Homo sapiens: one gene and its partner. The protein of the gene in region 1 purifies or fractionates together with the protein of each later gene. This does not show direct contact. Each region holds a gene or a part of one and is shown in the gene's direction. Other genes may lie near its edges.

Region 1 (6,495 bases):
TTTAGGATGAATACAGAGTAAAGAGCAGGAAGGATGGTGGGAAACCAGTAAAATCAGAATGTGGCCTCACTTTGTTTTCTGTTCTCCTCTTCTGAGGGCACCCTGGCTGGTGAATCATTCTTAGAGTGGGGCTGCATTGGGCCTGCAGGTTGAATTGAGCTGTAGTCACATTTGGTTTGGACTACACGGTGTATTCTTCTCTTGAGCTTTAATTTTCAATTGGCTACCAACATTTACCTTTGGGAGATTTTACACAAAATTATGGATTCTGTTGGGGGAAAAAGGAGAGCTGAAAATACTGGGCCTGAATTTCTGGATAGCCCCAAAATAGCTGGCATGGAGCAACAGCAGTTCCCCTCCCCTACCCCAAGGCCTTGGACTGGGCATGAATCCTTCAGTTTCATCACAGTTGCCTCCACTCCCCCAGCTCAGCTGATTGACAGACACCTTCCTCCTTTCATCTTTATGTGAAGTGCCAGGCCCTCCTGCTTGAAGGAGTAACCATAGCTTTGGCTTGATGAGCTCACAAGTGCACTGATTCTAACTGCCAGTCATGATTACAGTTTCAAAAACGAAAATCTGCAAGTAAAGTAGAGGAGAATTATCGGTATTCTCTCAGTGCACTCCTGGAAAGAATGTTGTAAAAGTAATGAAGAAAAATTATTTTTTCCTTTTTGCATTTTGTTGTTATAATACTTTGAAGACCGCAATTAGTAATTTCCAACGCTAGATGGCACTCCTGCATCGGTGAGGCGGACCCTGGCCCTGACAGCCGGTCTGAGTGGGTTCCTAATGCTGCACTAGCAAGCTTGTGAAGCGGGGGAGCCTGAGCTGCGGGCGTTTTTTCAGGTTCCATTGAGTACATAGATTGGTGAGGATTATGTTAGTAACTTTGATGGCATTTATTTTTTCCTAATTGTGTAAATGTTTCTGGTCAGTCGTCACTGCATTACAAACTACCTTCAGCCTTAGTGGCTTCACACAGCAGTAGTCACTGATTTTGCTCATGCCTCTGAAGCTCGCTCAGGCCTGGTGGGGGTGTCTTGTCTCTGTTCCATGTCGGCTAGGACAGCTCAGCTGGGCTAGGACCCCTTAAGATGGCTCGCGGGGCTGATGAGGTGGCTTCGGCCTCGGGGCCTGGGTGGACACTTGGTGAGCTTGGCTTCCTCATAGCATGTTGGAGCCAAGAGCAGGAGGTCCAGGGGACAGGAAGTGGCGAGGGCCTCCCCTAGGCCTGGCACGGCTTGAGTCACACTGGTCAGCCATGGCCGCCCTGCTCAAGAGGAGGCCACAGGGACCCCCTTCGTGATGGGAGGAGGGTCCAAGAGTGTGTCGCTGTCTTTATCCGGCCGATTTAGGCTTAGAATGGAAAACATTGAAAAATGAATAAAATATAAAGAAGAAAATGAATGGCTGTGTGCTCACGTAGAATATTGCCTAGCACACAGCGAAATAATAGTTGTTAGTGTTATTTATTTTAAGTATCTGTTTACTTTTCTCATATATGTGTTTTTTCCAAAACTGGAATCATACTTTAAGTAGAGTTCTATTATCTCTGTTTTTGTATATATTTATTTGTTTTACATACATATGTATTTATATATATATAAAATGTTAAATTTTAAAAACAGATACATGTATCTGTTTTTACAGATTTTTTAAACAAATTTAACATTTTCTTGGCATATTTACATTTTATTAAATATTCTTCGATCCATTATTGTATTTGATTTGAGGTAAATAATACAGATACATTACTTCCATTTTACTGCTGAGAAAGAGACCCAGAGAAGTTGTAACTTCTGTGGTATAATTATGAGTGTGGGCTCTAGAGGAAGACTGTACCAATTCCAGCTGTGAAATCTTGAGCCAGTTACTTATTTTTGAGTTCAGTTCCCTCCTCTGTGAGGTGAGGGTAACGATAGGGCATGGCTTGTGTGATGATTGGGCATGTGAAATATTTAACACAGTGCCAAGCACAGAGGAAGACTTCCATAAATGTTTGCCATCATTATACATTGTGGCTAATAGTACTAAAATTAATAAAATATTCTATATAGCATACAATTTGAGTTAGAACTTGAGTTTACATGTTCTAAGTTTAGTTCTTCATCCATAGTGTATGAACTATAATGTCTCATTGCTGTGTAAGTAATTGTTTCCTTTATTTTACAGAGAATGGTGGCATGAAGCTCAAAAAAATCCAAAGATAAGACCTAATCCTCATGACACCAAAGTGAAAAAAAAATTACGGACATTGCAACTCACCCCTGGCTTTCCTAACCCAGCTGTTGCCGAGGCCTACCTCAAACCCGTGGTGGATGACTCGAAGGGATCCTTTCTGTGGGGGAAACCTGATCTCGACAAAATTAGAGAATATCCTTTGCTTCTTAAAAGAGAAGGAAACACCTTGTCAAATATGTGTTTGGTTTAAAACTTATGGAAGAGAAACTTGGATCATTTTTTTCTTATATCCCGTTAATCCCATTTTCTTAATATCCCGCTCTCCTTTTCACTCTTTCTTCCCTCTCCTCAGTTGTTGTTTTTTGTTTGTTTGTTTGTTTTAAAGGAACAGTGTATCACTCTGTCACCCAGCCTGGAGTGCAGTGGTGCAATCATAGCTCACTGCAGCCACCACTTCCTGGGCTCAAGGAATCCTCCTGCCTCAGCCTCCTAAGTAGCACAAGCCACTGCATCTGGCCCCTCTCCTTAGTTTTAAAGAGGGTCTTTGTTTGAATAAGCAGTGATAAGCATTCATAGATATAACCACATACTTAAATATTATTGATTCTGAAAGAAGGAAAGATGACTAATCTTGTCCTTTTTATTACTGGTTGTCCTTTCCGTGTATATTTAAGTAATCATTTGGATAGATGTTTCAAAACTTGCACTAGAATTAATCCAACTACGTTTGATTTTTTCTCTTAATGAAATAGGCAAGATATCTGAAACTTGTTTTTATTCCAGTTAACCTTTTTTCATAGTCACAAGTCTTTGATGTCCTAAAGTGAGAGCTAAATATGTTTTATTTTATAGAATTGAAAAGAACATAGTGCCAGATGATTATGCTGGAGTCATTTATTTTGTTAGTACTTTCTTTTAGCACTCTAATCTTTATAAATAGGAAAATCTTAGGAGATACAGGGAATGGAATCAAGAATGGGTTCTTTGGACCTTTTTATTTGTCACTTGTTTAAATATCTTTCAAAATATTTATAAGTCTTAACTGCATGCATATTTTGTCAGCGGTATTTCGGCTGGAACAGAACGAAGACAGATGAATCTCTGTTTCCTGTATTAAAGCAACTCGATGCCCAGCAGGTAATCATGGTGGACCCTTCTCCTAAGTTCAGGATGAAGGGTAGGCTGTGGTTGACAGCTGTTAAAGACCAGTTAACTCTTATTTTGGGGCATAGAGCAGACATTTTGAAATTAGGATAATTTAGATGAGAGAATAGAAGAAAATAGAAAAAGAAAAGTTAGACTTTGGCTTCATTTTCTATGATCACTCTTAGGGCTGAACTTTGGAGTCCTTTCATATTCATTTTTTTCTTTGAAAAAACCAGTCTAATAACTGATTTCACACTAAGGTGTTTCTGATTAAATACATTACCCCTTGGGATTTACTTTCATTTTTTAACGAAAGGAAGTCTTCAAAGCAATTCTGATCATTTAAGTTTTTATAAGTACTAATATTTTTAAATTCTATAAACGAATCTTGAAAGGTAGAAGTTCAGTCATTATTGTGTATCAGTAGGAGAGGTTTTTGTGGGAAGGAGCCCTTTTGTATGACCTTTAGTTCCTCTAGGTACCTACTTCTTGCTTTATCTGTGAGTATGTTCTGACTCACACAAAACAAGCTTTCGCCCACACTAGAAACAACCCACAAAACATACATACAAATAAACCACTTAGCAGAAATGAGAATGTAGCTTTTGTGATAATATATTTAAATTAAACCCATTTTCATTAGGCTTGGATAATTTTGAAAAACATGAACAAAACTAAGACAGCATTTCTATGAGTTTCTCTTTGTTTTTTGGATGACTATCTACTGGAAACATTATAAACCAACCAAAAAGGAAAGCTATTTGTCTTAGTGTCTGGTGATTTCTTAATTTCAGATAAATTTTGTTGTAATATTTATCTCCTTTTTCATTCTAAAACTTAATGTGTTTATTTTTCCAAAATTAGAAAATGAAGAAAATGAATTAAAACTACTCATTAGTTACCTCCTCTAATACAGTTGTTAACATTTAGGTTAAAAAATTTTCCTGCATTTATTTGTGGCCATACTAAATGTAACTTAATAGATCTAATCCTCCCCCCCAACTTATTAGCATATTTTCTTCTATGTATTGTGTGGTTTTCTTAATTCCAGATGACTAGATTATATTTCATGAAAGATATTTAAATAATTAGTTCAGTTTACTTGTTAGACCTTTAATTTTCAAGTTTGTTATAGTAATGCTGTGATGAACATTAGGCATATAGCTTTACCCATATATTTTTTTTTTGAGACGGAGTCTCACTCTGTCTCCCAGGCTGGAGTGCAGTGGTGAGAACTCGGCTCACTGCAAGCTCCGCCTCCCGGGTTCACGCCATTCTCCTGCCTCAGCCTCCCGAGTAGCTGGGACTACAGGCGCCCGCCACCACGCCTGGCTAATGTTTTGTATTTTTTTAGTAGAGACGGGGTTTCACCGTGTAAGCCAGAATGGTCTCGATCTGACCTCGTGATCCACCCACCTCGGCCTCCCAGAGTGCTGGGGTTACAGGCGTGAGCCACCATGCCCGGCCAAAGAATATCTTCTTAAAAGTGAATTTACTGAATAAAAGGCATGAATATTTCTTACAGTTGCTAATATATACTGTGAACTTGCCTCTCAAAGGTATTGTATGATGATAATGTTTTTAAAAGAAAGATATAGTAGGACTTAGAAACAGGCCCCATGAAGTCGTGTTGCTCCTGAGGAAGATGAAATGTTTAGCTACAGAAAAATATTTAACGCTCTTTGAATATCTTAGGAAGAGATTTCTCATTTGAGATGTGGACTAAAGACTTAGTTGACAGAGATGGTACAAGTACTGCTTTAGGTATGATTTAGAAAGTGAAAATTACTGTCAGTAATTCACTGGGAGAGAACTGGGTTTTGGGAGATAATGAATTAATATTCTCTGACATAGTAATCCAATGTGAGTGATCAAGGTTGAGCTTGTTGATTTGGTTTAGAAACTTGACTTACTTGTCTGATTTATTATTATTATTCTTTTGTTATTTTTTTAGACACAGCTCCGAATTGATTCCTTCTTTAGATTAGCACAACAGGAGAAAGAAGATGCTAAACGTATTAAGAGCCAGAGACTAAACAGAGCTGTGACATGTATGCTAAGGAAAGAGAAAGAAGCAGCAGCCAGCGAAATAGAAGCAGTTTCTGTTGCCATGGAGAAAGAATTTGAGCTACTTGATAAGGCAAAAGGAAAAACCCAGAAGAGAGGCATAACAAATACCTTAGAAGAGTCATCAAGCCTGAAAAGAAAGAGGCTTTCAGATTCTAAAGGAAAGAATACATGCGGTGGATTTTTGGGGGAGACCTGCCTCTCAGAATCATCTGATGGATCTTCAAGTGAAGATGCTGAAAGTTCATCTTTAATGAATGTACAAAGGAGAACAGCTGCGAAAGAGCCAAAAACCAGTGCTTCAGATTCGCAGAACTCAGTGAAGGAAGCTCCCGTGAAGAATGGAGGTGCGACCACCAGCAGCTCTAGTGATAGTGATGACGATGGAGGGAAAGAGAAGATGGTCCTCGTGACCGCCAGATCTGTGTTTGGGAAGAAAAGAAGGAAACTAAGACGTGCGAGGGGAAGAAAAAGGAAAACCTAATTAAAAAATATGTATCCTCTATAATTAGTTATGACAGCCATTTGTAATGAATTTGTCGCAAAGACGTAATAAAATTAACTGGTGGCACGGTCTTTGTATTTAGTGTGTGGTTCCTAAAAACAAATGCTAAATCTGACATTTGTTTTTTAATGTTTTACTTTTCTAGTATTTTTTAGCTGAATATTTCAAGTATCATTGGATATTATCTTGTATTCACAGGCTTTGTCTTTTCATGTTTTCATTATCTTAACAATGTCTGATCCTTCCTGGTCACATGTTAAAAAAGCGAAAAAGATTTCTATTGATCAGCACTCACTCTCAATAGGCTTTCCCTCTGACATTCAGACGTAGCTGAGAAGAAATACGTGCATGTTTCTAATTCCACAATAGTGGCAGTTTTACACAACTGTTTAGCCCTGCTGCCCACGGCTTTGCATTTTCCCTCAGGTTCCACTTAAAAGCATAGCAGGAGGGAGCCTCACTGCTGGAACATATTTCAATATGTTTGCTGTGGTTTTAGCAAACAATTAGGAAACCTAAATGGGGTGCATCATTCTACCTGTGAACATTAAGTGTATGGGAACCTCTGTACCGTTATGTTTGGCTTTTAAACC
Region 2 (7,031 bases), on another chromosome or scaffold:
AAGACAGGCATGGTTGTTCCTACCTGTAATCCTAGCTACTTGGGAGGCTGAGGAGGGAGGGTTCGAGACCAACTTGGACAACATAGGGAAACCCTATCCTTTTTTTTTTTTTTTGAGAAGGAGTCTCGCTCTGTCGCCCAGGCTAGAGTGCAGTGGCGCAATCTCGGCTCACTGCAAGCTCCGCCTCCCGGGTTCACGCCATTGTCCTGCCTCAGCCTCCCGAGTAGCTGGGACTACAGGCGCCCGCTACCACGCCCGGCTAATTTTTTTGTATTTTTAGTAGAGACGGGGTTTCAGCGTGTTAGCCAGGAGGGAAACCCTATCTTACAAAAAAAAAAAAAAAAAGATCTTGTCAATTATGTTACCAACAACTGTATGGAGATTCCTATTGCCACACAACTTTGCCTATATTGGCTAATATTATTTTTTAAAATCTTGCATTTTAAAAGATGTTTAAAAGCATCTTATCAGATGCTTTTCTGATAAGAAAAACATCTTGGATTTTTTTTTTTTTTTTTTTTGAGACGAAGTTTTGCTCTGTCACACAAGCTGGAGTGCCGTGGCATGATCTAGGCTCACTGCAACCTCCACCTCCCAGGTTCAAGTGATTCTCCTGCCTCAGACTCCCGAGTAGCTGGGACTACAGTCGCATGCCACCATGCCCGGCTAATTTTTGTATTTTTAGTAGAGACGGGGTTTCACTATGTTGGCCAGGCTGGTCTCGAACTACTGACTTCGTGATCCAGCCGCCTCGATCCTCCCAAAGTGCTGGGATTACAGGTGTGAGCCACTGCGCCCGGCCTGAGATGGAGTTTTGCTCTTGTTGCCCAGGCTGGAGTGCAATGGCGTGATAGCTCACCACAACCTCTGCCTCCCGGGTTCAAGCAGTTCTCCTGTCTCAGCCTTCCGAGTAGCTGGGATTACAGACATGCGCCACTACCTCTGGCTAATTTTGTAGTTTTAGTAGAGATGGGGTTTCTCCATGTTGGTCAGGCTGGTCTTGAACTCCCGACCTCAGGTGATCCACCCGCTTTGGCATCCCAAAGTGCTGAGATTACAGGCGTGAGCCACCGTGTCCAGCCTCATTTTGGCTCTTAATGAAAAATTTTTTGATAGTTTGTTGAGTTTTTATGGCATATATTTCATGGGATTGAATATAGGCATTTTTATAATATGCTTGTTAGTCTGAGAAGAGCAGGTATTATTTTGCTGAATGATTCTGGCTCGGTCTTAGGATGTTGTAATCAAGTTGTTGGCTAGGACTGCAGTCTAGATTTGACTGGGCCTGGAGTATCTGTTTCCAAGGTCACTCATGTGGCTCTTGTCAGGAGGCTTCAGTTCCTCCCCATGGACTCTTCCATAGGGCTACTTATGACGTGGCTTCTCCCAGAACTAGTGATATGAGCGGAGGTAAGGAAGATTGGAGAGATGGATGGGAGAAGAGAGAAAGGGAGGGAGGAAGGGAACTGGAAGCTGTAGAGCCTTTTAAAACCTAATGATAGAAGTGATATACCATCACCTCTGGTGTTTTGTAGTGTTATAATGTGGGAGAGTACACACAAGAGTGTGAATACCAAGAGTGTGAATATCATTGGGCTATCTTGAAGGCTGGCTTCCGCAGGATTTTATTAACTTATTTTTTTTTTTTTCATGTCCTCAAGTAGCAAAGACTTTTTGGAGGCAAGTGATAAAGTGAGTAGGAGTAGTGCTTCATAAAAGAGGAACTATAGGGTTATGGAAAAATTAACTAGGAGTTTTACTTATGGGAGAAAATACAGGAGCAGAGAGGAGAGAAAAGAGGTGAAACATTATTAAATACCTTTGTCTCTTAGCTGCTAGCAATTGAAGAAGCATATTTCCCTACTTATCAATTTAATCTAGCAAATGCACAAATGAATTGATTGTATGCATATAGAAGAAGATTGGATTTCATGTTCTTTTTTTAATTTTTTCTGTTCAAGGATGAACATTGTCTCAATTACAGAAAATGGTAATTTTTTTTCTTTATCAGGCCACCTATTTCAAGAAATGGGCCTTCCATTCTGAAGGCATATAGAATTAGATGGAGGCAGTGGTATCTAATTCTCATTTAACTACAGCCTTTAATAATTTAATTTCTGTCTGGGTGCAGTGGCTTACGCCTGTAATCCCAGCACTTTGGGAGGCTGAGGCGGGTGGATCACCTGAGGTCAGGAGTTCGAGACCATCCTGGCCAACATAGTGAAACCCCGTCTCTACTAAAAATACAATAATTAGCTGGGTGTGGTGGCATGGGCATGTAATCCCAGGTACTTGGGGAGGCTAAGGCAGGAGAATCACTTGAACCTGGGAGGCAGAGGTTGCAGTGAGCCGAGATCACACCACTGCACTCCAGCCTAGGCTACAGAGCAAGACTCCATCTTAAAAAAAAATTAATTTCTATCCCAACCATTCTTGGCAAAACCTGTCTCTGGAAATTTTATGTGCTAAATCTACTTTTTTCATCACGCACGAGACGCAAAGTACAAGATAAGCAAAATCAAGTACCTACCATCTTGATATATAAAGGCAATGTTTTGTGATAGTTACTTAACATCTTTCTCTTTCTTTTTTTCCCTTTTTTTTCTGTTCTCCTATTTCTCTCTCATTTACTGATGTTACTGGATAGTTTATCCTGAAGAGTCCGAATTTTGCTTATTGCATCTCTGTGATATTGTTAAATATGTTCTTCTGTTCTCAGTATTTCCTCTAAATTGTTAGTTATGTTTAAAAGTTTTATCAGATTAAGTTTGAATTTATTTGTTGATAAGAATAATAAGTGGTGTTAACTCATTTAATATACTGATCTTATTCAGTACCTTTGTGCAAATTGGGAAACAGAGCCCCCTCTGGGTAGAAAATTAGGAAAAGGCACTTATTTTAGGTGGAAGATTTAGAACAGGAACATTCTAGATATATTATTTTATAATTTTCTGTTGTGATAAGAGGATATACTCTATAAAATTTCAGTCTTTTGAAGTTTTCTGAAAGCTTGCTTATGGTCCAGCATATGGCCTGTCTTTGTGAACAATCAGTGTACATTTGAAAAGAATATACATTCTGTGGTTGTTGGGTGTAGTGTAGTATAAGTTATAAACGTGGTACATATTACCATACCCATCTTGGTTGATAGCATTACCAGATCTTCTGTATCTTTATTAATTTATTTTATCTACTCATCTTATGAATTACTCCACTATGATTATAGATTTGTCAGTTTTTCTTGTAAGTTTTGTCATACTTTATGCATTTTGGAACTCTCTTGTTGGGTACATATTTGGGATTGTTATGCCTTCCTAATACATTTCTCCTTTTATCATTATGAAATGGCCCTCTTTGTCTCTTGTAATATGCTTTTTCCTGAAGATTCTGTCTGATAATAATTTGGCACTGTCAGATTTCTTGTGCTTACTATTTGATAGTGTGCATTTTTCCGTTCATTTACTTTAAAAAAATTTTTTAACCCATGTAATATCAGTGGCACAATCATAAACTCCTGGGCTCAAATGATCCTCCTGCCTCATCCTCTTGAGTAGCTAGGACTACAGGTGCATGGCACCACACCTGGCTTATTTATTTATTTATGTATTTATTATTTTTATTTTTTGAGATGGAATCTCGCTCTGTTGCCCAGGCTGGAGTGCAGTGGCGCGATCTCAGCTCACGGCAAGCTCCGCCTCCCAGGTTCACACCATTCTCCTGCCTCAGCCTTCCGAGTAGCTGGGATTACAGGCACGGGCCACCACGTCTGGCTAATTTTTTGTATTTTTAATAGAGACAGGGTTTCACTGTGTTAGCCAGGATGGTCTCGATCTCCTGACCTCGTGATCCTCCTGCCTCGGCCTCCCAAAGTGCTGGGATTACAGGCGTGAGCCACTGCGCCTGGGGTTTTTTTTTTTTTTTTTTTTTTAATTTTTAGTAGAGATGGGGTCTTGCTATGTTTCCCAAGCTGGTCTCAAACGCCTGAGCGCAAGTGATCCTCCTGCCTGGGCCTCCCAAAATGTAGGTATTACAAGAGTGAGCTGCTGTACCTGGCCCCCATCCATTTACTTTCAACCAATTTGTGTCTGTCTCTGGGAGACTCTACTTCACTGGGTCTTGCCATTTTATCTGGATTGACAATCTCTGCCTTTTAATTGGTGTACTAGTCCATTATATCTAATTATTGATATCATTGGGTTTAAGTCTACATGTTTCCTTGTATTCCTTTGGTTTTTTTGTTGTTCTTTTGCTCCTTTCCTGCCTTATTTTGAAATAATTGGATTTTTTAAAGTATTGGCCTATTAGCCGGTAGCTTTTTATTTTTTATTTATTTTTATTTTTTTTTAAATAAGAGACAGGATCTCACTCTATCACCCAGGCTGGAGTGTGGTGGCTTTATCACAGGTCACTGCAACCTTGAACTCAGGGGTTCAAGGGATCCTTCCACTTCAGCCACCCCAGAATTTGGGACTACAGGTGTGCACTGCCACAGCCAGCTAATTTTTAATTTTTTTTTGTAGAGCTAGTCTCTGACTGTGTTGCCCAGGCTGGTCTCAAACTCCTGGCCTCAAGTGATCTACCCACCTCAGCCTCCCAAAGTTCTGGGATTACAGTCACCTTTTATGGCCAACAATTAACTCCTCATTGTTATTATTATTATTAGTGGTTTCTTTCAGCATATCTTTTATTTGTATTTGTGATTTGTTGTTATTTTTGCTTTAAACAGTCAGTTGTCTTTAAGGAAAGGTATGTTTTTAAAAAACTACTTCACTGAATATAATTCACGTACCATAAAATTCACACATTTAAAGTGTACGTTTCAATGGCTTTTAGTATATTCTCAGAGATGTACATATTACCCCACAAAGATACCTCTCACCACTTAGCCGTCACACTCCTCAACTCCCCCCTCCCATAGCACTAGGCAACCAGTTATCTACTTTCTGACTATGTAGATTTTCCTATTCTGGACCTTTCATATAAATGGAATCATACAGTATGTGGTTCTCTGGACTGGCTTCTTTTACATAGTGTAATATTTTCTAGGTTCATCCATGTTGTAGCATGTATGAGTACAACATTTCTTTTTATTGCTGAATATTATTCCATTGTATGGCTATACTACATTTTATCCATTCATCAGTTGAAGAACATTTGAGTCATTTCTACTTTTTGGCTGTTATGAATAATGCTGCTGTGAACATTCATGTACAAGTTTTCGTATGGACAAATGTTTTTGTTTCTCTCATGTATATATTTAGGAGTAGAATTATTGGATCATATGGTAACTCTTTGTTTAGTTTGTTTTCCAATGTGGCTGTACCATCTTATAGCAGTGAATGAGGGCTCTAGTCTCTCTATGTAGTTGCCAATGCTTGTTATAGTTGTCTTTTGATTATAGCCATTCTAGTGGGTATGAAGTGGTGAAATATAGTCTCTTATTTTCACCTATTTACTATCTTTGATATTGCCCTTCTTCCTTTGGATCTGATTTTATAGTCATATTGATTTCCATCTGCCTAAAGAACATTCTTTAGCATTTCTTTTTTTTTTTGAGACGGAGTCTTGCTCTGTCGCCCAGGCTGGAGTACAATGGCACAATCTCGGCTCACTGCAGCCTCCGCCTCCCAGGTTCAAGCGATTCTCCTGCCTCAGCCTCTTGAGTAACTGGGATTACAGGTGTGTGCCACCATGCCCGGCTAATTTTTGTATTTTCAGTAGAGATGGAGTTTCACCATGTTGGCCAGGCTGGCCTTGAACTCCTGACCTCAGGTGATTCGCCTGCCTCAGCCTCTCAAAGTGCTGAGATTACAGGCGTGAGCCACTGCGCCCAGCTCCTTAGCATTTCTTATAGTGTAGGTGTGTTGGTGAAGAATATACTCTGATTTTGTTTATAAGAAAGTGTTTTTATTTCACCCTAGTGTTTGAAGGATATTTTTGCTGAATATAGAATTATGGGTTGGCATTTCTTTGACCATACAAAAGATATCATTTCATTGTTCTCTAGTGTTTCTGTTGAGAAGTTAATTTTACTCATATCTCTTTCTCCCTGTTCTTTAGATTATATATTTTCTATTGATCTATCTTCAGGTTCACTGTTGCCTGTCTGCCATTTCTAATCTCATCCAATAGATTTTTCATTTCTTATTGTATTGTTTTGGTCGTAGAGTTTTCATTTTTATCTTTTTTATAGTTTTCATTTCTCTGATATTTCCCATCTATATACTCATCAAGAATATATTTTTCTTTAGTTCTTTGAATGCATTTTCCTTTAATTTTTTGAACATATTTTCCATTAATTCCTTTAAAATATTTATGATAGTCAATCTTAAGGTTTCTGTCTGTAAGAGTTAACTCCTTGGCTATCTCAGGGTTGGTTTCTTTTTTGTTTGTGTTTTTGAGAGAGCCTCACTCTGTTGCCCATGCTGGAGTGCAGTGGCATGATCTTGGCTCACTGCAACCTCCACCTCTTAGGTTCAAGTGATTCTCCTGCATCAGCCTCCCAAGTAGCTGGGATTACAGGTGCCTGCTACCATGCCTGGCTAATTTTTGTATTTTTAGTAGAGATGGGGTTTTGCCCTGTTGGCCAGGCTGGTCCCAAGCTCTTGACCTCAAGTGATCTGCGTGCCTCGGCCTCCCAAAGTGCGGGGATTACAGGTGTGAGCCATCACGCCCAGCCATCTCAGGGTTGGTTTCTATTGACTGCTTTTATTTGACTGTAGGTTACAGTTTTCTGCTTATTTATTTTTGCATGTTTACTACTTTTTAATTGTAGGTGGTATATTATAGAGATTCTGGATTTTGTATTTTTGTGAAAAGTGTTGATTTTAAAAATTCTTGCAGGTAGTTCAGTTACTGGCAGATAACTTTGAACTTGTGTAGGCTTGGTTTTACTCTTTGCTAGAATGATATGTGGAGAACCCATTGTTTCCTTACTTTAGTGTAACTCAACCTCACATTTTTAATCCCTTCAAAAACTTGTTGGGGCTTGATTTTAGTCTTTGTTAGGGTGCACCTAGAATATGCCTTAT

Evidence for each region. Proteins that work in one complex are often made in the same cells at the same time.
Region 2: the proteins of ERCC5 (region 1) and MNAT1 purify together in Homo sapiens (co-immunoprecipitation; 2 studies listed by BioGRID and IntAct, with this or other methods). This does not show direct contact.

What each region holds. Positions count from the first base shown.
Region 1 is NC_000013.11:102,870,023-102,876,517, forward strand, and holds the end of ERCC5 (DNA excision repair protein ERCC-5), read left to right. Parts: intron 1-2,175; coding exon 2,176-2,376; intron 2,377-3,236; coding exon 3,237-3,321; intron 3,322-5,284; coding exon 5,285-5,881; 3' UTR 5,882-5,973; downstream 5,974-6,495. Other genes in the region: BIVM-ERCC5 protein, read left to right, coding at 2,176-2,376, 3,237-3,321, 5,285-5,881. UniProt on the Homo sapiens protein: Single-stranded structure-specific DNA endonuclease involved in DNA excision repair. Makes the 3'incision in DNA nucleotide excision repair (NER).
Region 2 is NC_000014.9:60,737,753-60,744,783, forward strand, and holds part of MNAT1 (CDK-activating kinase assembly factor MAT1), read left to right. Parts: intron 1-7,031.